Homo sapiens: one gene and its partners. The protein of the gene in region 2 binds, or shares a complex with, the protein of the main gene of each other region. Each region holds a gene or a part of one and is shown on either strand. Other genes may lie near its edges. A codon is read from its position in the direction of its gene.

The links. The genes of interacting proteins can lie anywhere in the genome.
Region 1: LIN9 (region 2) and MYBL1 share a complex: the UniProt entries of both Homo sapiens proteins name them as parts of the DREAM complex.
Region 3: the proteins of LIN9 (region 2) and LIN52 are in contact, whole or in part, in a crystal structure (PDB 6C48), measured with the Homo sapiens proteins. Residues at the interface, in NP_001353174.1 of Homo sapiens: Leu335 (codon at 5,976), Gly336 (codon at 5,979), Phe338 (codon at 5,985), Phe342 (codon at 5,997), Leu343 (codon at 6,000), Ile344 (codon at 6,003), Val346 (codon at 6,009), Thr347, Leu349, Ser350, Lys351, Leu353, Met354, Lys356, Lys357, Ile360, Leu363, Arg364, Asn367, Thr368, Ala370, Glu371, Lys374, Ile382, Phe384, Gln385, Tyr388, Ala389, Val392, Leu395; in NP_001019845.2 of Homo sapiens: Asp61, Met64, Leu65, Leu68, Gly69, Leu71, Thr72, Thr73, Leu76, Met77, Val80, Leu83, Gln84, Leu86, Ala87, Leu90, Asp93, Glu94, Glu97, Met98, Arg100, Gly101, Leu104, Asn105, Ile106, Leu107, Glu108, Pro110.

Annotation. Positions count from the first base shown.
Region 1 is NC_000008.11:66,610,219-66,618,150, reverse strand, and holds the start of MYBL1 (myb-related protein A), read left to right. Parts: upstream 1-4,932; 5' UTR 4,933-5,312; coding exon 5,313-5,332; intron 5,333-5,357; exon of another isoform or gene 5,358-5,578; coding exon of another isoform or gene 5,579-5,637; intron 5,638-7,932. UniProt on the Homo sapiens protein: Transcription factor that specifically recognizes the sequence 5'-YAAC[GT]G-3'.
Region 2 is NC_000001.11:226,263,717-226,271,543, reverse strand, and holds part of LIN9 (protein lin-9 homolog), read left to right. Parts: intron 1-3,453; coding exon 3,454-3,587; intron 3,588-5,211; coding exon 5,212-5,331; intron 5,332-5,909; coding exon 5,910-6,011; intron 6,012-7,827. UniProt on the Homo sapiens protein: Acts as a tumor suppressor. Inhibits DNA synthesis. Its ability to inhibit oncogenic transformation is mediated through its association with RB1. Plays a role in the expression of genes required for the G1/S transition.
Region 3 is NC_000014.9:74,080,580-74,087,955, forward strand, and holds the start of LIN52 (protein lin-52 homolog), read left to right. Parts: upstream 1-4,376; 5' UTR 4,377-4,383; coding exon of another isoform or gene 4,384-4,395; coding exon 4,396-4,414; intron 4,415-7,376. Other genes in the region: ALDH6A1 (methylmalonate-semialdehyde/malonate-semialdehyde dehydrogenase [acylating], mitochondrial isoform 1 precursor), read right to left, coding at 3,768-3,815.

The DNA of each region.
Region 1 (7,932 bases), on a different chromosome or scaffold from region 2:
GAGACTGCTTTTGAGAGCAAAATTAATCTCTGTAGTACTAATGTGTAGCATGAGTAGGTGTTCAAGAACTGTTCGTTAAATTGAATTAAATAATATTAATAAGATATAAATAAGATTAATAAGCATTTCTTTTATAAGAATAGGGATTCTCAATCTTTATTATAGCACCAGGTGCTATGTGCTCTGTGCAGAAATTTTATATTATACCACTACCTCCCTCTTATGGTAATTTACATGAATATGTACAAGTGAACCAACTTTGCACTAATTTGTTTACTGTGATATTTATCAGTAATTCACTAAAGAGGAACAGCAGAGTATCACTAGCTTTTCAGTATTTGAGTCCAGTATTGCAGCTCTTAAAAGTAGGTTTTTCTAAAACTAAAAATCAGAATGTTGAGATTGTCATTTTCAAAGATTTATCCTTTTACCAAATAAGAAAAAGCCAGCCATTCACAAAGCAGAAAGGGGTCACCATTAGCTATGAATGCTTTCTATGTCTCTGGAGCTTCACATCCAACACAACTATAGCTGTGAGAGAAGGGTGCTGATCCCTTCCTCCCTTCCTCCTTCCCTCTTTCCTTATCTCTCTTTCTTTTTTTCTTGTTGTATCTGACAATGGTTACTTTCTTTTTTTCGAGATGGAGTCTCATTCTGCCGCCCAGGCTGGAGTACAGTGGTGCAATCTTGGCTCACTGCAACTTCTGCCTCCCAGGCTCAAGCTATTCTCCTGCCTCAGCCTCCTGAGTAGCTGGGACTACAGGCACACGCCACCACGCCCAGCTAATTTTTTTATTTTTAGTAGAGACAGGGTTTCACCATGTTGGCCAGGATGGTCTCGATCTCCTGACCTCAGGTGATCCATCTGCCTCAGCCTCCCAAAGTGCTGGGATTATAGGCGTGAGCCACCGCACCTGTCCGATGGTTATTTTCAATCCCAAGACGTACACTTTATCCAGTAAAAATTGGGCTGAAGAATTTAGGAATTCTAAAATAAAAATTTGAATTGGAAAAATAAAAATTTACTTCATGAAGATTAATATATAATAAGGAGAGTGACAGGGGTTGTGAGTGCCCCTTCATTCATGACACTCTAGCTGTCAGGTCTGGGATTTGATTTTACCCTACTTATAAGCTAAGTTAAACTGTTACTGGCTCATGGATCCTTTTACCAGAAGACACAAGACTCTAAGGTTGGGGACAAAGTGTTGGTATTACTTACAGCACAGCAAACACCTTGAGCATCAACATATTTGTGCCAGTTATTCTTGCTTTCAGGTCCCATGGGGCAATGTAATGGTACCAGATGGATGTCATGCATAGAGTGGATTTGTGCTACAGTTGAGAAACACTCAACTTGGGAATCCACTGCTTTTATAGTAAGCAGTAAGTAAACCTAGTTTTTGTCTTGGACTGAGATGTTACCTCATCTCTCAAGGCAACTAGCTGCAAATAACCCTTAGAAATGGCCTGTGTAAAAGAGTACTCAGGGCCTTGCAATCTAGGCACACCCAGCAAGATGTATATAGGAGTGCAAGAAGCCCAAGGAAGATTGTTTTAGTAACCACACCAGCATCTCTAAAGAATGGCCCTAGTTAGGCATAGATGGCTCATGCCTATAATCCCAGCACTTGAGGACGGTGAAGCAGCAGGACTGCTTGAGCCCAGGAGTTCAAGGTTACAGTGAGCTATCATCACACCACTGCAATCCAGCCTGGGCTACACAGCTAGACCCCATCTCTAAAAACGTTACGAAAAGGCCAGGGTCAGTGACTCATGCCTGTAATCCCAGCACTTTGGGAGGCTGAGATGGACGGATCACCTGAGGTCAGGAGCTTGAGACCAGCCTGGCCAACAGGGCAAAACCCCGTCTCTACTAAAAATACAAAAATTAGGCCAGGCATGGTGGCTCATGCCTGTAATCCCAGCACTTCGGGAGGCCGAGGCGGGAGGATCACCTGAGGTCAGGAGTTCCAGACCAGGCTGGTCAACATGGTGAGACCCCATCTCTACTAAAAATACAAAAAATTAGCCTGGGGTGGCAGGATAATTTCTTGAACCCGGGAGGTAGAGGTTGCAGTGAGCCAAGATCATGCCACTGGACTCCAGCCTGGGTGACAGAGTGAGACTCTGTCTCAAAAAACAAAAACCACAAAAATTAGCCGGGCATGGTGACACATGCCTGTAATCCCAGCTGCTTGGGAGGCTGAGGCACAAGAATTGCTTGAACATGGGAGGTGGAGGTTGCAGTGAGTGGTGATCGCGCCAATGCACTCCAGCCTGGGTGACAGAGTGACTGTCTAAAAAAAAAAAAAAAAAAAAAAAAAAAGACCTACTATTTGACAGCACAAGTTGACTAGAGTCAATAACTTGATTGTAGATTTTAAAATAACTAAAATTTATAATAACTAAAAGTAACACAAAGGATAAATACTCAAGGGGATGGATACCCCATCTCCATGATGTGATTATTTCACATTGCATGCCTGTATCAAAACATCTCATGTACCCCACAAATATATACACCTACTATGTACCCACAAAAATTAAAAAACAAACAAAACAAAGCCACTATAAATGTTTTGCAAAATGGCTGAATTCTGCATGCCTAACAGCAATGTATGCAAGTTGTACTTGCTCAGCATTTTCATCTTCACCAACATTTGTATAGTCAGTCATTTTCCCCGCTCATTCTAACAGAAGTGTAGTCTAGTATCTCATTGTGGTTTAATTTGCATTTCTCTAATGACTAATGAGGTGGAACATCATTTAATATGCCTGTCGTGTGTGTGTGTGTGTGTGTGTGTGTGTGTGTGTGTGTGTATGTATATATATATCTCGTTTGGTGAAATCTGTTTAAATCTTTTGCCCATTTTTTAAATGCTTTTTTTCTCACTGAGTTTTGAGAGTTCTTTATATACTCTGAATAAAATCTCTAAACGTTTGCTTAAAAAAAAACTCATCTTAGTTTAGAATACATCTGAGTATGTGTATTCAAATGACTGTGAACCACTTTAATTCCACACTTTGCCCTGAGTTTTATAACTGATTTCAGTAATTTCACAATGTTATCTTTCTGGGAATTGCTTTTCTCTATATGTAAAAATGAGGGAAATTTGTTTTACTGTCAAAATCTAAAACATTTGTCTTCAAGCTCTAAAAAAGGTATTCTGTATAAAACTGAATACAGCCTAAAATATAGCAGAAGCTCTGCTTCCTGTTAGATATAAATAAGTGAAGTAATGTACGACCCAGGGGTAAATAAGAAAACAGTGAAACAGTGATTCCAAATGACATTGGGAACATAATGAAATTTGGGAACTCATTTCTAAATTATTTTTTATTTTTTTATTTTTACTGAACCAGCAACCCAGTAAGGAATGATCTGGAAGAAACGCTTGGCCAGGTGTTGTGGCGCGCGCCTGTAGTCCCAGCTACTTTGGAGGCTGAGGCAAGAGGATCGCTGTTCGAGGCTACTGTAAGCTATGATTGTGCCACTGCACTCCAGCATGGGGAATAGAGTGAGACCTAGTCTCAAAAAAAAAACAACAAAAAAAAAAACAGGAGAGAAAAAGAAAAGCTGTTTTATCTTCCCTTACCTTCCCAGAATCTATACCTTGAAAAAAGGAACTGTTAAAAAAAAAAAAGCCAGTGTGTTTAGGTTTTGACAGCAGTGCATGCAAGCTTCTCTCTTAATTCAGCTCCTCTTAATTCACTCTGCACCTGCATCTGATTTGCAAAAGATGAAGCGTAAAATTTCAAAATAGCAAGTGTTTGTTACAGTGTTAACATGTGGCTCAGTGCTCTATGCAATAGACCATGTTGCCTTGCAAATTTTCCTTAGCCAAGTGTAATTGTTACTGTAGCAAATCTACTTTAATGCTACTTGAAATGAACAGTTCGTAGTTATTAGACTGGAACCTCAAGTAGCTGCAACCGCTAGAAACTCCTCCGGTGGTTCCCCCCTCCCTGGTCTCTCCAGAGGGAAGAAGGTCACCTTCTACACTTAACTACCATGCTCATTCATCTGGACGAAATGCCCAGTCCACTGTCTTCTTCACGCGTTATTCTCCAGGACAGGGCTCCTCCGCCGCGCACGTTATTTCCTGTAGAGCGGGCACGAAATTAAGCACCTTGAAGACCAGCGGTAGACACAGATTATCTCCGGTTCCAAGCACGTCTCCCGCTAGGAACTTTTTTCACTTGTCACTCTTCTGCTGCTTTTTGAGGAAAACAGGTGATATTTGGTTTCCTGCCAGAGTCTTCGTCACTCTCGTAACTATGATGTCTGGGTAAAAATAGCTCACATTTTTGCTTAAAAAATAACGGCCGCGCAAATTTATGGTTAGATTTGTCTCAAGTCTGAAGACCGCGCATCCTAACTAGTGAGGCGGAAGACACCTAAGGAGCCAGGAGCTGTCGCCGAGGCGAGGCTGCGGAGACGTTCCCTTGGTGGGCCGCGGGACCACCCACCCCGCCAGAAACTCGGTTCGCTCACCCTAAGAATTTTGGGGCAACTGGACTTCTCCACCGCCCGCTTCCGGACCCGCTCCGGCGCCGCTTCCGGACCCACTCCTCGGCGAGCGCAGGAACTCGCTCTCCCAGCAGGCCCCGCGCGGTGCGCCTCTCGGCGCGTTCCGGGTCCTATGACAGCTCGGCTCGCATGCGCCACCTACGGCCCCACCCGCGGCCCCACCCCCTGGCTCCCGGCTCCTTCCCCGACTCCCGCGAGTTCCAGTCCCAGCTTCCAGCTCCCCAGCCCCGCCCTCAGCCGCGCGCGCTCTCCCCTCCCCGCCCTCGCTTCTTCGCGTGCGGCCCCCACAGCCAATGAGGTTCAGGGCCGCGTGCGCAGATTCAAACGGCGGCTCTTGAGGGAGGCTGGGCGCGAGATTCGGCGGTGCGGACAAAACCCTGCAGGAGACTGCGAGCCCTGCAGAACTGCTAGCTGCGGGGGAGAGGGCAGGGGTCGGGCGCCTGTGGCGGAGCCGGGCTGGGGCCAGGGCAGGGAGGCTGACAAGCGGCGGGAGAAGCCGGCGGAGGGCGGGATCGCGCCTCCTGACATGTTGGGGGTATCCCTGGCCGGGCCGGGCCGGGGCTAAGAGCGGCGCTGCGGGCCGGGGTCGGGGTCGGGTCGCGGTCCGCCCCCGCTGTCCCTCCGTCCTGCCCTGTCGAGGACGTGCGTTCCGCACTCGGCCGCCTCCAGAGGGAGCGAGGGAAGCGGCTAGAGGATCGGGGAGAAGGAGCATTCGCCGGAGGCTGGAGGAGGCTGACCCGCGTCCCCGCCCAGCCTGCTCCTATGCGGTACTTGAAGGATGGCGAAGAGGTCGCGCAGGTGGGTGGCACCCCTTTCGCCCAGGCCTGTCGGCGCCGTCTCGGCTCAGATTCTCTTTCCTATCCCGCTGCCCCCTCCCGCCATAAGGCCCTCCCTGGCGAGGGCAGAGGTTTTTCTTCCCGCGTCCCCGCGGCCGCTTGGCCTCGATGACCGGAGGGCAGCTGCGACGTGTGGAGAGTTGGGGACCAGGGTGTTTGAGGCGCGGGACGTAAGAGATGCCCAGGTTTCTCGGTGACTCTCCCCGTAATGCGCGTCCAGATTTCTGACCTCATGCTGCCACTTCTTCGAGGCAGGTTTCTTGCCAGGTAAGTCGAGCGCTTTTAGGGAGTCCGCTACGCAGAGAAAACTGACTGTGTCCTGCCGGGAGGACTTGAAAATGGTGTTCGGGCGACTCTTTTCTGAATGACGGTACAGTCAAAATAGGAACTCCGCGGTGAACCTGGGCGGCCACCCCTCTGCCAACTTGGCTATCTTGAAACGTTGTGGAAAATCCTCTGGGGAATAGCTGAGAGGACTTTTTTGATGTTTTCTGTAATTCCTATACCCATATGCTCAGCTTTATGTATATATGTATATTTTAATATCCTCTCTTGGGACCATGTCACATAGTAACAACTAGTAGTAACAACTAGTAGCTTGATCTTGAAATAAAACAATGTGTTTGATTCACTTAATATTTTGAGTGTCTGTGTTTGGCTCTGACCGTACCTAAGTGTTCCACAGAGGTAAGGCACTTTTTTCCACCTTTGCCTGGAAAATGTGCTAGGATGAATTTATGCATCTAATTTTCGTTTACATGCCATTACAGCAGCTACTCATAAATTATGTGGAGTAATTGCTTAGATAACAAAAATATAGGATGTCTTCCGATTTTCAGCATTATCAAATAAACCTGAAAAGATGTTTGGCAGGATTTCCAAATATTTATTTATCTAGATCCACAGCCCCAAAATCTTAACTAGAGATGTATTTCCTAAGTTGAAATTTAGTAATGGGGGTCATTCATTGCAGAGTTCTGCTAAAAATTGGCAGTAACTATACATAATTGTTTTTTCCTTAGTTTTCTGTTAAGCATCTGCTGTGTGCAGGATGCTTCTGCAGAAATCCTTAAGTCTCTGTAAGCTTATTAGTTTTGAAGTAAGTTATAGGACAAACTCTTGAGATGAAATAAATGTGTACACAGACCCCTCTAAAACTGTTTTCAGCCTTTGCACTATTGACATCTTGGACCAGATAATTCTTTGTAATGGGGAGATGTTTAGCAGCATCGCTGGCTTCTACCCAGTAGAGATAGTAACACTCCACTTCCCTCAGTCATGACAGTAAAAATGTCTCCAGACATTGCCAAATATCTTTTGGGGGACAAAATCACCCAGGAAAGAACCACCCTTCTAGAACTTCAAGGACCCAATTAACATCAATCTTCAGAAAAGATAGATATTTAAAGCTCTTGTAATTATGATTGCCGAAGTACTGGTTTAGGCTTTTTGAATTTTTAAATATAAAAAAATTTAAAAATAAGATGACAATTGAATATGTTAACTCAATAACAAGTTTATTAATGTGTGATATTATCTACTTATCAGTATTGATGTTAATCTTATTTGAAACAGTTTCTTGGCTAATTCTGTCATCAGCATTTAGTTAAATTAAAATTATGGCTAGACACGAATGTTTAAATGTCAGAACCTTCCCCTCCCCATGGGTTTTCTGTCCATTTCATATGTGTGAAGTGTATGTTTCATAATAATGGACAAAGAAAGGAGAAACAACTTAATGTTAGTTTGCATATATAAGTTGTTTTATTGAGAATACTGTGAGCTTGAAATCTAAATATTGTACTTTTGACATTTATCCCTTGACAGTTGTGTAAGTTAATTTAAACATGATAGAATGATTTAAAGGGTCGTAAATCTGGAGTAATTAAATGTGGTGGGGTGAAGCTATACTCTCCCTGGGAGTATACAGATAGAGGATGTGGGGAGAAATTATCATCTCTGAATGATGTATCTCTTAAGTCTTCATACTTAAATGTGTTTCATACTCTGAATTACATTTCTTGCCCACGTAAATATGATTTACATATCTTAGAAGATAGTAGATGCTCTGCTTTTGTGCTTCAACAAAAAACAAAAGAGGATAGAGTGTGAATTGTTTTGAAGCAAAAATAATGTCATTGGGAAAAATCTCTCTTGCCTTTTACCTAAGTATCTTAATATATTTGAACTCAATTTATAGTTGAAAGGGAAAAGAAATAATTCAGTTACTTCAAGTTGTAATTTGAGATCTCCAGTATACAACCACTTAAGCGTTCAAGTGAAAACTATACTTTGCTGTATAAAAGTTTTGCCTAAGAGCATAGGCGTAAATCCTGTAATATATGTTTCCTATGTGAACTGAAAAAAAAAAACCCAAAAAAACCTAAGAGTAGAAAACTAAGTGTTACCTCAAGTGTGAACAACTGCAGGATGTTAGCTGTTTTGATCTTTAAGATAGCCGTAGTATCTGTCCTCTAGATTTACATAAAGGAAGACTCATTTGTATTGTGACTTTAAATAATTTTACATCCCACTGGGAATTGCGATGACAATTTACAGGCA
Region 2 (7,827 bases):
ATTTACATAGGCAAATGGCTTGTTTATCGACATATACCATATACTGGCCCATTAAAAATGTCAATACATTTTGAAAGATTGAAATCATATAGAGAATTTCTCTGACCACAATAGAATTTAATTAAACATATTCCTTCTTTAGAAAATATTTTAGTAAACAAAGAGTAGTAGATTTTTCCTCAAAAACAAGAGCCAAAAGAATTAAAAAGTCACTCTATTAGGGATTTTGCTGTAGGAACAAAGAATCTGGCAGGTAAAAAGTGACTGGACTTTGTGATTGTCAGATACAGAGTTAGAAGCACAAGAGTTTTGACAGATGCACTGCGTATTCAAAGTAATGGAAAATTTGAATAGTAGAGAAGTTTGGAAAAATGTCTAGACATGATACTTTAGCTACAGTATATAGAAAGTTGTTTGAGACGTCATACTTAAGCCACAGTTGTTTACCCCTGGAGAAATGAGAGTGTTAAAAAAGATATTAAAATCATTGATTTGTTAAGAAATTATAAGAATCTGAACTATCCTAAAAGTAATCTTTGTAAAATGAACGATAATTCCAGGTTATCTGGGATTTTCTGTAGGTTATCTAAAGGAGTAAATGGAAAAGAAATAAAAAAGATTTTATTTATCAAATAAATTTTTCAAAAAACAGAAATGAAGAGAATAGGAAAAAAGTACATACATACACAAACCTTTTTTTTTTTTTTTTTTTTTTTTTTGAGACAGAGTCTTGCTCTGTCTTCCAGGCTGGAGTGCAGTGGTACTATCCTGGCTCACTGCAGTCTCTACCTCTCTACCTCTTGGGCTCAAGCAATCCTCCCACCTCAGCCTCCAGGGACTACAGGCACATGCCACCATGCCTGGCTAATTTTTTTGTATGTTTTTGTAGAGATGGGGTTTCACCATGTTGCACAGACTGGTCTTGAACTCCTGAGCTCCAGCGATCCACCCTCTTGGGCCTCCCAAAGTGAGCCACCACGCCCAGCCTACTTTAATTCTTTGAACATATTTATAACAGCTGCTTTTTTAAGTCTTTGCTAAATATCTCTCTCAATTTCTTACTGTACTTTTCTTAAGAGCCATGCTTTCCTACTTCTTTACATGTCTAGTAATTTTTGGTGGAAAACTTGATATTTCAGATAATATATTGTAGCAACTATGTATTCTAATTTTTTGGAGAGTTGTTGGATTTGCTTTAATAACTTGGCTATGCAAATACTGATGTCTCTGCTTCATTTTTTATTCTTATATTTATTATTATTATTAAACTTGATTTCCAAAGAGTTACCCCTGTGTCTGCATATAATTTAGTGGTCAGGGCTGGGTGCGGTGGCTCACGCCTGTAATCCCAACACTTTGGGAGTCTGAGGCGGGCGGATCACCTGATGTCAGGAGTTTGTGACCAGCCTGGCCAGCATGTGACACCCTGTCTCTACTAAAAATACAAAAAAAAATTAGCCGGGTGTGGTGGCGGGCACTTGTAATCCCAGCTACTCAGGAGGCTGAGGCAGGAGAATCACTTGAACCCGGGAGGTGGAGGTTGCAGTGAGCGAGATCGTGCCACTGCATTCCATCCTGGGCAACGGAGCGAGACTCCCATCTCAAAATAATAATAATAATTTAGTGGTCACCTAATGATTTGAACAGAGGTTATGCTCAAACATCTTGATCGGGAAAAGCCTCACATTGATTTATATGTGAGTTGGGGAATGTAAATACAAAGTTGCTGCTAGTTTTCAAGTCATCCTTAGCTTTTACTTTTTGCCAGACTATTGGATCTTCCCCCTCCATTTGCATAGTAACCCAGTTAGCCAGGGATGGTAGAGAGCTTATTTCCGCCCTTTTATGGCTCTCTAGTTTCCATGATCTCCCTGTTAAATTTCTGGCTGTCTTTCATGACCAGTCAAAATTCTGGCTGGTTTTCGTGACCAACCCTGAACTAATAAAACCATTCTCATCGACCACGTTGGTGGTAGTAGTGGGTGTGTGAATAACCTCGTGCAAAGAGGCCACTGAGTCCCCCTGCCCTAACCTGAAGCTCTAGCACTTCTTCAACAATAAACGTTTCTTGTTTTCTACATTTGATCCATTTCCAGTACCCTGGAATGGTTGTTTTTCACAATCTCATTCAGGTTTGTACTTGTTTTTTGTGGAGAGGAATTACCAGCCTCTTCATGCCACCATAACTAGTAGTCCTTTTCTATGCTTATATTTGTTTACTCAGCTTCATTATTTACATCTTCTGTATCCATGTTTACTTTTCCCTTAAAGGATCTGTCAGAAACTGAGAGAGATTTTAGTCCTCTACAGTTGTGTTTTTATCAATTGATCCTTTTATTTTAAACAGTCTTGCATTGTGTATTTCTGTGTTCTATTAAAATGTTGTGTATTATACTTTTTGGTTAGTATAAAATGTATTACTTTGCCCAGTTTACAGCCATCAATGCTGTTGTTCTTAAATTTTTTACTCATGCTGGATGTTTGTTTGGATTTCTCTGATGTTATTTTAGGCTGGACTTAAATAATAGTGACACAGTTCATCTGTGTCATCAGTTCCAAGACTACTAGTTTTGGTGATTCACTAGAAAGACTCAGAATACTCAGCACATGTACTCATGGGTAAGATTTGTTACAGTGAAGGACACAAAACAAAATTGGCAAAAGAATAAGGTGCTTGGGGCAAAGTCCAGAGGAAACCACGTGCAAGTTTTCAAAAGTCCTCTCCCAATAGAGTCATGCAAGACTTTTAATTCTCCCAGAAACAAGTTGTCACAATGCTTATAAGTGTTGTCTACCAGGGAAGCTCATTAGAGACTCAGTGACCAGAGTTCTACTGGGGGCTGAGTATGTAGGCATCTTTTGCCTAGTACATACTAAAATTCCAGTCTTCCAGAGGGAAAGCAGGTGTCCAGCATTAACCACATCGTTTGCACAATCTAGACACAGTAAAACCACCATTATTAATTAGGGAACAGTGGGAACACTTCCGAAATCCAAGTTCCCAGATACCAGACAAAGGCCAACCTTGCAAGGAGGTTTTCCTAAGTATAGCAGCATCAGGCCTGCAGTATTAACTTCTTTAATTATTTTCTACACAACATCTTTGTCTTTTTTTTTAAATTGAACTACTCCTGGTGCTTCACTCATGAGTATAATGACCAAAGTTCTTTTGTTGTTTTTTTTGCAGTTAAATGATTTAAAATATTTTTCTCTTAATTTGGGAGTAATATAATTTTATTCAAATATGAAATTAGGGATCATCATTTATAGTTTTTGTTTTTGTTTCAAAAATTCTTTGTTGTTTCTCTAAGCCAAAAATAAAGTGTGTGCTTGTTTTGAAACTCTAATAGACAAAATACTGTACTATGATTTAAATTACATGCTTGGAACAGTTTTATATTTGACTATTCTTTGTATCTCCCACACATCATAATGCCTTTGTTCTTTTCTCAGCACGATTACGTGGTGTTCATGATGGTTTGTTCACTGGACAAATAGATGCTGTGGATACTCTTAATGCTACTTATAGAGTAACTTTTGATAGGACAGGGCTTGGAACCCATACCATCCCTGACTATGAAGTTCTCGTAAGTAGTATTTCATAATACATTTGTGTTTTATGCCTGTTAAATGTGTTATATAGAGTTTTTTTAGAAATCGTATTTTATGATAGAATCAAGACTTTATCTCACAGAGGAAGAGATCCTTAGGGGACCCCAGCCCTATCTGCTAGACCCCTGGTTCGGATCTATACTTAAGTCTTCCATTTGCCAGGAACTAGCATTTCTCTGTTGGACCTTAACGACACAGCACTTTAGTATAACCAAACTGATGAGTCCTGACTAAATAACCTTGGAGAAGAAGCTACATAACATTTTCATTGCAGCTGTTAGGTTAAAGTATAGTCCTCTTGCAAAATTGTTTTTAAAGTATAGTAACATCTTGTACTTATTTGTTCTCCTGTTTTATCTTCAGAGGCATGCAAGGTGGGTGTTAATTACCTTCACTTTTGCATGATGAAACTCAGACATAAGTACAATTGCGTAATTTATTCAAGGCTCTAGATCTGGTTTCCTATTAGGCTGAGACTAGAATTGAGATCTTTTTTTTTTTTTTTTTTTGAGACGGAGTCTTGCTCTGTCGCCCAGGCTGGAGTGCAGTGGTGTGATCTCGGCTCACTGCAACCTCTGCCTAGAATATACATACATACATACATACATACATATATACATAATATATATACACACACATATATATGTATGTCTTTGTAAATATATTTCCTAAAAGAAATATATATATATATATATATATATCTCCTTAGTGCAGAAATACAATATTGCTTGATATCTCTCCGCAATAGGAGAGAAAGAAAATTAGAACTAAATGTAGAACAGAGTACACTGCTCTTAAGTTTTTACATTAAAGGATGAAAGCTTTAAACTCTCCTTTCAAAAAAAGTAAATTGGCCAGGCGCGGTTGCTCACACCTATAATCCCAGCACTTTGGGAGGCTGAGATGGGCGGATCACCTGATGTCAGGAGTTCAAGACCAGCCTGGCCAACATGGTGAAACCCCATCTCTACTAAAAATACAAAAATTAGCTGGGTGGGGTAGCACATGTCTGTAATCCCAGCTACTTGGGAGGCTGAGGCAGGAGAATTGCTTGAACCCAGGAGGTGGAGGCTGCAGTGATCCGAGATCGCGCCATTGCACTCCAGTTTGGTCAACAAGAGTAAAACTCGGTCTCAAAAAAAAAAAAAAGTAAATTGCTTCTCTGTTTCATTAATTTAACTGTTTTTATGAGATCACCCAAATATTTCTCCCTGGCTAAATAAGAGTTGATTTTTAATTGTAGGGTATATTCAGACAGTCTAAATGCAGATAACCAAATGTGGCCATAGAAAACTTTAATATTAATCTTTGATTCTCTGAACTATTTTGACCCCCCCCCTTTTTTTTTATTTCTTTTTTTCTTCTGGAGGTTCATCCTTTTGGCAGCAAAGTAGTGTTTTCATACTCTGTTTCAAGTTCTAGCCTTTGATCTGTATAGACTAATATGCTACTCTATAAATAATTAAATATATAAGTAATAAATTCTATATGAATCATAGAATATGCGTGAATATATATCTCAAGCTGAAATACAATGATTATAAAGCTTAAATGATTGGTAAATTTCTTTAAGTTTTGTGAATTATTCTGTTTTCTCAGAGTAATGAACCTCATGAGACAATGCCAATTGCTGCCTTTGGACAAAAACAGCGGCCTTCTCGATTTTTTATGACCCCACCACGGTTACATTATACTCCTCCTCTCCAGTCACCAATTATAGTAAGTATATTTTAGAAATATCAATAATTTAATTGATTTTTATGAAGGTGAACTATGTTCTTAAGAAATACACATCTATTACAGCAACTTCAAAGTATGCACACTATTTTGAATTGAAAATATTAAATAAAATAAATAGTTGCTTCATCTCCAGAAATAATTTCCTTTTTATTGGATTTTAATATAATATTAATTATAACAGAATTTTCTCTTTTTCTAAAAATAAGATACTTCCTGGCCGGGCGCAGTGGCTCACGCCTGTAATCCCAGCACTTTGGGAGGCTGAGGCAGGCGGATCACGAGGTCAGGAGTTCGAGACCAACCTGATCAACATGGTGAAACGCCGTCTCTGCTAAAAATACAAAAATTAGCTGGGCGTGGTGGCGCGCGCCTGTAATCCCAGCTGCTCGGGAGGCTGAGGCAGGAGAATCGCTTGAACCCAGGAGTCAGAGATTGCAGTGAGCCGAGATCACAAGTGGCAACAGAGCGAGACTCCGTCTAAAAAAAAATAAAAATAAAAAAATAAGATACTTCCTCTGAATAGTCAATGATTAAATAATTCCTTTTTATTCCCATAGGATAATGATCCTTTATTAGGACAGTCGCCGTGGAGAAGTAAAATTTCTGGCTCTGACACTGAAACATTAGGTGGTTTTCCAGTAGAATTTCTTATCCAAGTGGTAAGAATTGTTCTGAATATCTTGGCTGTTTGTTTAAAAACTCAATGCCTTTTATGTTATTAAAGTTGAAAATTTTTCTAGGGCCGTGTAGGTTTATCACCGTGTAGGTTTTAAGAGCTGCTATTTCCAACAAAGCCTGAAAATAAAAGTTATAAAAACCAAAAAAGACTTAAAGATCTTTCTTCTTGAGCTTTGTCTTGTGTCTGAGTTCTTATTATTCTGCTATTTTAAGGGCTCAAACATTCTTGCATATGTTCTGTGAAATTCTGAATGTTTGGCTGTTAATAACTTGGGTAACTATGAAGGCTTTTATTTAGTAACCTCAGCATATTCTGCCATCATCAGTCAGTTCAACAGTTATGATGTCCTGGCTAGCTTATATGGTTAGAAGAAATTTTATTTCTTTTCAGAGACTAGAAACAGGTATTCACCTGCTAAGTACTTAGTGATTAGACACTAAGAAATCTAAGCCTAAACTGAACTAAGTGTAGAAGTATTATATTGGAAAATTTCCTTATAGCTGGACTCTTAAAAATGTAGTGAGTTTGAAAATTAGATTAAATAAATTTTTTAGTTTGAATCATAGTCTAATAATGTTTCATTTCCTTTTTGGAAAATGAAAACTACTTTGGCTTGGGATAGAAATGATCTTTATTTTCATTTGTTTATTTATTTATTCATTTTGAGACTGAGTCTTGCTCTGTTGCCCAGGCTGGAGTGCAGTGGGTCAGTCTGGGCTCACTGCAACCTCTACCTCCTGGATTCAAGCTTTTCTCCTGCTTCAGCCTCCTGAGTAGCTGGGATTACAGGCATGCACCACTATGCCCGGCTAATTTTTTTTGTAATTTTAATAGAGATGGGGTTTCACTGTGCTGGCCAGGCTGGTCTCCAGTTCCTAACTTCAAGTGATCCCCCCACCTTGGCCTCCCAAAGTGCTGGGATTAGAGGTGTGAGCTACTGCACCTGGCTGATATGATCTTTATAAATAAAAATGTTTATAACATAATCCATGAAAATATTCACAGTGTTCTTTTGCAGTTGATGTTATTTTGAGGAAAGGTCTTGTCAGTTGTGTGTCTGTATATAGCATTCTGTGTTCCTCAATCACATTTTTTTATTTAATATTTATTTATTTATTTGTTTATTTATTTTATTTGAGACAGAGTCTCACTCTGTCTCCCAGGCTGGAGTGCAGTGGCACGATCTCAGCTCACTGTAGCCTCTACCTCCCGGGTTCCAGTGGAATCACCTCAGCCTCCCAAGTTGCTGGGATTACAGGCGCACGCCACCACACCCAGCTAATTTTTTGTATTTTTAGTAGAGACGGGGTTTCACCATGTTGGCCAGGCTGGTCTCAAACTCCTGACCTCACATGATCGCCCTCGGCCTCCCAAAGTGCTGGAATTGCAGGCATGAGCGACTGCACCTGGCCTATTTATTTATTTATTTGTTTGTTTGAGACAAAGTCTTGCTCTGTTGTCCAGGCTGGAGTACAGGGGTGCCATTATGGCTCACTGCAGCCTTAACCTCCAGTCTCAGGCAGTCCTCCCACCTCAGCCTCCCAAGTAGCTGAGACTGCAGGCATGTACCACCACTCCCAGCTAATATATTTTTTATTGGTTTTGTAGAGATGGAGTCTCACTATGTTACCTAGGCTGGTCTTGAACTCCTGGGCTCAAATGTTCCTCCCACCTTGGCTTTCCAAAGTGCTAAGATTACAGGCTTGAGTCACCATGCCCAGCCAATGATATATTGTTAGTTATCCTTGCAATATAAAATTTCTTATACCTTTGGCTTCTCAAGGCAGATGGATATT
Region 3 (7,376 bases), on a different chromosome or scaffold from region 2:
GGCACATGCCACCATGCCCAGCTAATTAAAAAAAATTTTTTTTTGTAGAGATGGGGCCTCCCTATCTTGCCAGGGCTGGTTTTGAACTCTTAGCCTCAAGCGATCCTCCTGCCTGGGCCACCCAAAGTGTTGGGATTACAGGCATGAGCCATCACACCCAGCCTACTCTTAAACTTTCTGAATCTAGTTTCCATCCCATAATCAGAGGGTCTTTCTGAAACATAAATCTGGTCAGATTATTCCCTTGTTTAAAATTCTTCTTTGGCTTTCCACTGCCCTTGGAATAAAGACTAATCCCCTTGATGTTGCTTAGAAAACGCTACATAGTATCTTTGCTTTTCTAGTTACATAACTGGCTACTTTCCTCCCTGTTCTCTATGCTCCTGCAATTTAACGTGTGTCTTGCTTTCTTTGCTCTTGCACATGCTGCTCTCTCTTGCCTGGCACTGTTTCATCTAATTTCCTTGGCTCATTCCTACTCCTTTAGGTCCCCACTCAGCCATCATCACTTTCTCTAGGAAGTCTCAACCTCAGGTCTATGGTAAGCAGCTGATTGTGAAGCTCATAAAGCACCCAAATTCCTTTATTTCTCATCTCACGCTATGAAATAATAGCTTGTCTAATGATTAACTTTCTCTCCTTTGAGGTCACTAGATTGTTGTGTCCCCAGCCCCTAGCACAATTCCTGGAAGAGAGTAAGTACTTAGTAAGCAATATTTTGCACAATGAAAGAATGAGTACTCGCCAAGCAATCATTTGATATTGTTTCAGTACTCTCAAGTTGGCAGACAATGCACTGATCAGCCAACTTGAGCATTCTAGGCCACTTAAATTTTATTTTTTCACTTGTATACAGCCTCCCTGCTGTTAAGAGGATGTAAAAAGCACTACATCTGGTATAATAGAACATATTCATATAGTTTTTTGACAGGTTCGATCTTCTATCTTTTCTTCATTTCCTAAGAAACACCCATTAGCATTGTTGCTGAAGAAACTATCCTGTGGCCAGTCACCCCAAACTGCTGCTCTCTAGATGTTTACTTCCTACTTGCTATATCCTTTATAAGGAACTCCTTCCTCTCCTGGTTCATGGCCTGCTAGTCCTGCAATACTTGGCTCTTTCCCTAGGTCCCCACAGTATCCCAGATACTCCTATTGTTTATCACTTATTGCAGTACAATAAAGGAGCTTTCAGTGAGCATTTTACTGTAAGCCTATGTCAGTGCCTAACATAGAAAGAGATGGCAAGACTTAAGTTCTGAATTTTCAGCCCCATCAGTTACTAGTTCGGTAACCATATCACCGACAGTGCAAGTCGCTACATCTCTTCAAGAGTAATTTTCTTGCCCAGGTGCAGCGGTTCGTGCCTGTAGTCCCAACACTTTGGGAGGCTGAGGTGGGAGGATAGCTTGAGTTTAAGAGTTCAAGACCAGCCTGGGCAACATGGTGAAACCCTGTCTCTACAAAAAATACAAAAATTAGCTGGCATGGGGGCACGATCTGTTGTTGCAGCTACTCGGAGGGCTGAGATGGAAGAATCACTTCAGCGTGGGAGGTCGAGGCTGCTGTGAGTTGTGATTGCACCACTGCACTCCAGCCTGGGTGACAGAGCGAGACCCTGTCTCGAACATTCCTTTATCTCTGCATGGGAGTGATAATATCACAAGGAGCAGAGAGAGGTTTTAGGTTAAGTTTGACTACTCTTCGTGGCAGAGAAAAATAAGCTGAATACTTAAAATAATTGAAAACATTAACTTTCTCCTCTATAAATCCTTTTGATAGTTCTCTAATATTCATGGCTGCCAAAATCGAGGTTTTTTTTTTTTTTTTTTTTTTTTTTGATGGAGTCTTGCTCTGTCGCCCAGGCTGGAGTGCAATGGCACGATCTCAGCTCACTGCAACCTCCGTCTTCCGGGTTCAAGCGATTCTCCTGCCTCAACTTCCTGAGTAGCTGGGATTACAGTCGCCCGCCACCACACCCGGCTAATTTTTGTATTTTTAGTAGAGAAGGGGTTTTACCATGTTGGTCAGGCTGGTCTCGAACTCCTGACCTCAGGTGATCCACCCACCTTGGCCTCCCAAAGTGCAGGGATTACAGGCAGGAGCTACAGCGCCTGGCCCGTAGGCTACTTTTTATCGAACTTTTAATCAAAGATTCACGTTACAACTCCTAGTTGGCTGAGGATTACTCTATCTGTTCTTTTCCAGGTCACTTCAGAAGTTTCTCCAAATGAATCAGAAAATACATAGTGTCTGTTTCTGAAATAAAAGTACATGGAAAGAGAGATTCTTCTCCTTGATGGAAAAGGACAAAATACTTTCTTAAGGTTCTCAATGACTCATTGTGATGGGAGGGGAAGAGGAGGCAAAGGAAAAAAGCCAATTTCAGTAAAAGATTTCAAGAAGTTGGTAAGAAAAATATAGGGTGGAAACTTTGTTTTCCTGCTACTAAAAAAAGATACTAGAACAGAACAAGGATCGCAGCAAGAAATATGAGTGAGGCCAGACCATCTGCCAAACCCTTCAAACTCATCCTTTCTACCTTCCCCATTAAATAGCATATTTAAAAATGAATCTTTGCTGACTCTGCCAAGAATCTTAAAACTGCCCAAGTTTCTTTACTAGAACTCACGGAAACCTGGTGAATACTAATATTACCTAAAAGCTCAGCAATATAGAGGAAATTCTCAGACTGGATGTAATGAATAAGAACGGCACTGTTGTTTCTTGCAGACTGTTTCTTGCCTGCGGTAAATCTTGCCACATACTCTAAATCCTTGGTAGGCCATGAACAGGGGAAAGACTATAAACAGAGTTGGAGATTACAGGCCTCAGGCATGCAACTCCTGTAGCTTTACCATTTCTCCTTAGGTTGGCTTCAGAGAGGACTCAATCCCCCAAGTGCAGAGATGAGGGTGTGTAGCACTAGAAGAGCTGATTTTGGGGTGGGAACTTAGACTTCTTGTCTTACCTGGCTCCCACTTTCTATCACCCGTTTTAAAGATGTTTGGTACCTTGAACATACATGGAACATACTGGTAGCTTTAACTGTGTGCCCTTATCTACCCTATCTATGTAGATGTGCCCTATCTATGTAAACTGTAACTTAGCTGAGAAAAAGTTTAACTCAAAGTTTTGGCAAGAAAGGGGACAGCCAGTCCATGGAAAATACAAAGAGCCACACTTAGGGAAAATAGCTTAGCAAATGGCTGCCTTTGGTGAAAATCTAGAGTCCACCTCTAGAAGGAAATTCAAAGTTCATACACTGACCCTCGCCCCTCGCGTCCCCCCTCCCCCTTACCTCAGATCACCACGGATAGTGAAGTAGGGTGGGGGAAGGGAGCAATGGCAAAGTGGACGCTCACGGCAGGGGACAGAGTAACCAAAAAGAGTAGTTTCTGGGGGAGAGAGAGAAGGCTGGTGCAGAGGTAAAAAGGAAAGACGGTGGGCGGATGGAGAGATGAGGGCAAGAGAGTGACAGCAGGGAGCGGGCAGAGCTGGAGAAGGAGAGTGGGCGAGAGCCAGAAAAGAGGAGGCTTAGGAGTAAAAGGGTAGAGGGCCAAGGGTAACAGCCCAGGGTTGGATCCGGGACCAGGGAGGTTATGAAGTGAGGGCTGGGCATGGGACAGGGCCGCACAGGTCGGGTAGGAGGTCTGGCCAAAAAGGGGTTGGGCCAAGAAGGTGGTCCCGCCCGAGGATGGCTCAGGGAGCGGACGGAAAGGATCCAATTCCTAGCTTCATGGTGCCTTGGCACCACCCTCACTCGCCTGCAGGATCCGGGCTCGCACTGCCGCCGCCGCCAATAGCGCCGCCATGGCTCTCGGCCGCCCTAGCTCCGCACCCCGCGCCTCTACTGCCCAGAAGCACTACAGCTGCCAGGCCTCGCCCTCCATCCTGCCAGGCTTCCTCATTGGTGGGGAGGACTATTTTCTCCAGCCAATCACTGGTCCGAACACCTGATTCCTCTCCTCACACCCCCGTCCTGGGGATAAGTGATTGGTTAGGAGCGAAAATGCTCTCGCCCTCTGCCACCTCAGCCAATGACGTAGGCGGAGGTAGAGAAGACGCCCCTGACTTGGACACTCCCTACCGAGCACACGGGGAAGACGCCCCCCTAACCTGGAACTCCGATTGGCCAAGGGCGGAACCGAGGCCCCACCCCCCCACTGAAAAAAGTAAATAAGACCCTTCAAGAATTTTGCAGTCGCTCCACCTCAACATCCGCGTAAGGGGCGTGGCTATACTTAGGGGCGGGGCTAGGCAAAGATTGCCCTATGAGGCGAGGGAATGAGACTGGGCTGCGAGTTGGGGATAGGGTTTCTCTTTGGGGGCGTGGCTTATGGAACCTCGTTTTCCCGCCGACGGTTGGCCACGTCACGTGACATGGGTTGGAAGATGGCGTCTCCCACAGACGGTAAGAGCCGGCTTAGAGATCTTTGCCTGCAGCCTCCTTCTTTGCTCTACTGGGAACATCCACTCTGTCTCTGCCCCTCGAACATACATTTCTTTCTTGGGCTCTTCTCCTTTCCCTTTTATTTTTTTTCTTGAGATCCATCGCCGTCTTCAGCTCACCGGTTCTTCACAGCAGCTCCGGAGGTGCCCAGTTTCCCCGCTCTGTACCAGGCGTGTGGAGGAGGGCACTAGGGAGGGACTCATTCTGGGTAAAAGGACAGGGGGGTCGCCCTGTGCCTTCCTTATCTCTATTTGGGCGAGGCTGAGGGTCGAGGAGGAGATGTTTCTGGAGGACGTGGCTTACTGTAGTTTTTTCCTTGGGGTACCCATTGAAAGGATCAGTTCTCTTCTGATTGAGCGCACGGATGGAATGATTCTCACAAACCCTCGCAGGGCTGCTGGCTGACCTCATCTCGATACTGAACCGCAAGAGAAACATGATCTCTCTCCTGTCTCCTCAGTTTGGGACCATTGCCGTGGCAGCAAGAGAAGCGGGGGACGTTCTCGGCCCCTCGCCCTGAGAGTCGCGAGGAGAATCAGTATTGAGCTTTTAAGTGTCGTCTTGCACAGGTCGCAACCTGTCTTCCATCTGCTTTACGTGTTGTTTCTTAAGGCTGAGTGAATTAACGATTTCTGTTTATATATTGTGTAAAATGCAAGTCATTTCAAGTAACAATTAAGTTGTTTTGGTATACTCCCATGCTTTTCCTCTTGGTTCTGCTTTAGAGAGTTAGGGTCTTGCAGTCATTTTTAAACTCATTTTTAGTTCTACCATCCTCATCCCAACTATATATCGATTTTATTGATATATAGGTTTCCTTCCCTTAGACAAAAACATTTTATATTTGGAAGGAATCTTGGAAGTTCATTGCAGGAATGAAGAAATTGAAGCCAAGGTGAGCTATATTAAGTACCTGCTACATGAAAGGCATAATGCTAGGTGCTTTGGGAGACCAAAAGATGACTCAAACATATAAACATTTTTTTTTTTCAGTTTCAGTTCTCTTTTTAGATGTCACCTCCCAAAGAGTCTTTCTTAGAACACAGTATCTGGAGTTGCCCTTTCCCACCATTATTCATTATCTCAGTATCTTCCTTGTCAGCATAGTTACTCTGTTAACTTTGCCCCTTTTGCGCTAGATTGTAAATTCCAAGTTTGTCTTGTTCATAGTTGGATCCAGGTTTAGCACAGTGCCTGACGAACAGTAGGTCTTTAATTAACATTTATTGAAAGATTGATTAGATATATGCAGAAATAATATATTACTTGATCTTAAGTTTTAAGTTTAACCGAGTCTTAAATTTTGTGAGCGCAGGTACATACTGTATTAGAAATTATGGCTGGGCGTGGTGGTTCACACTTCTAATCCCAGCACTTTGGGAGGCTGAGGCAGGCAGATCGCCTGAGCTCAGGAATTGAAGACCAGCCTAGACAACATGGTGAAACCCCATCTCTACAAAAAAATACAAAAATTATCTGGGTGTGATGCCACAAACCTGTAGTCCCAGCTACTTGGGGGGGCTGAGGCAAGAGAATCTCTTGAGCCCAGGGGGTGGAGGCGGCAGTGAACCATGTTCATGCCACTGCACTCCAGTCTGTGTGACAAAGCGAGACCCCGTCTCAGAAAAAAAAGAAGGAAAAAAAAAGAAATTATGGATGTTTGGAGTCAAAAGAGATTCTCCTGCCTGGGTGCGCTCTTGCAAAAATGTCCTTCTCTTGCCAGAAAGAAGGGCATTTAAAAAGTCAGGCAAGGGAATAGGGAGTTATTGTTAATGGGTACCAAATTTCAGTTTGGGAAGGTGAAAGAATTCTGGAAATGAATGTGATGATTGCACAATTAATGTACTTAATACCACTGAAATGTATACTTAAAAGTTATTAAAATGGTAAAATTTATGTATATTTCACCACAGTTGAAAAAAAAAGCCAAGTAATACAAGTAGAAGTAATTGTTATTAAACTTTTTAGTTTATTTTTAAATTGTTTTTACAAACTTTGGGGATTTTAGAGATGTGTTCCTTGAGTTTGATTTTTTTCCCCTGTCATCTCTCAATTTAGTTTCCTTTCTTTGGCCAGGAAGAGTATTAAAAACATTAAATTTGGCTTGGCGTGGTGGCTCACGCCTGTAATCCCAGCACTTTGGGAGGGCGAGATGGGTGGATCACGAGGTCAGGAGATCGAGACCATCCTGGCTAACACAGTGAAACCCTGTCTCTACTAAAAAATACAAAAAATTAGCCAGGCGTGGTGGTGGGTGCCTGTAGTCCCAGCTACTCAGGAGGCTGAGGCAGGAGAATGGCGTGAACCCGGGAGGCAGAGCTTGCAGTGAGCCGAGATCACGCCACTGCACTCCAGCCTGGGACAGAGCGAGACTCCATTGCAAAAAAAAAAAAAAAAAAAAAAATTAAATTTTTTTCCTTTTCTAGCCATCTCTATGGTCACTTTATTTGCACTCTTGATTTTTAAGTTTTCATTCTCATCTCTTACAAAGTTTCACTCCTCTCCACCTAATGTTTTCTTTTTAATCTGAAAAAATCAAGTCAAGCACTTTGAACTTAAATTCAGCTTCTAAATAAGTATCTCATTCCAAAATATTCCACGGCCTAGCTCTTTCACTTCTATTTTTAGTGTTCCACCTGTCACTGTCTTTAAAATTTAATTCAGATAATATTTATTTTAATATGTTTGTCATTTACTCTTTTGTCTTTTTCGTGATAAATTTGCTGGAGCGTCTTTGAAAAGGAGAAAACTGAAATTCAAATACAGCCATCTAATTACTTAATTTATGAGAGTAAGACTCACAGCAGAGTCTGAGTTCTATCCCAGACTGTGGTATCATAAGGTCACCCATGTAGGTTATTAGATTGTACCCCCAATAATTTTTTTTTAACTTTCTTTTAGAGACAGGGTCTCTCTCACTCTA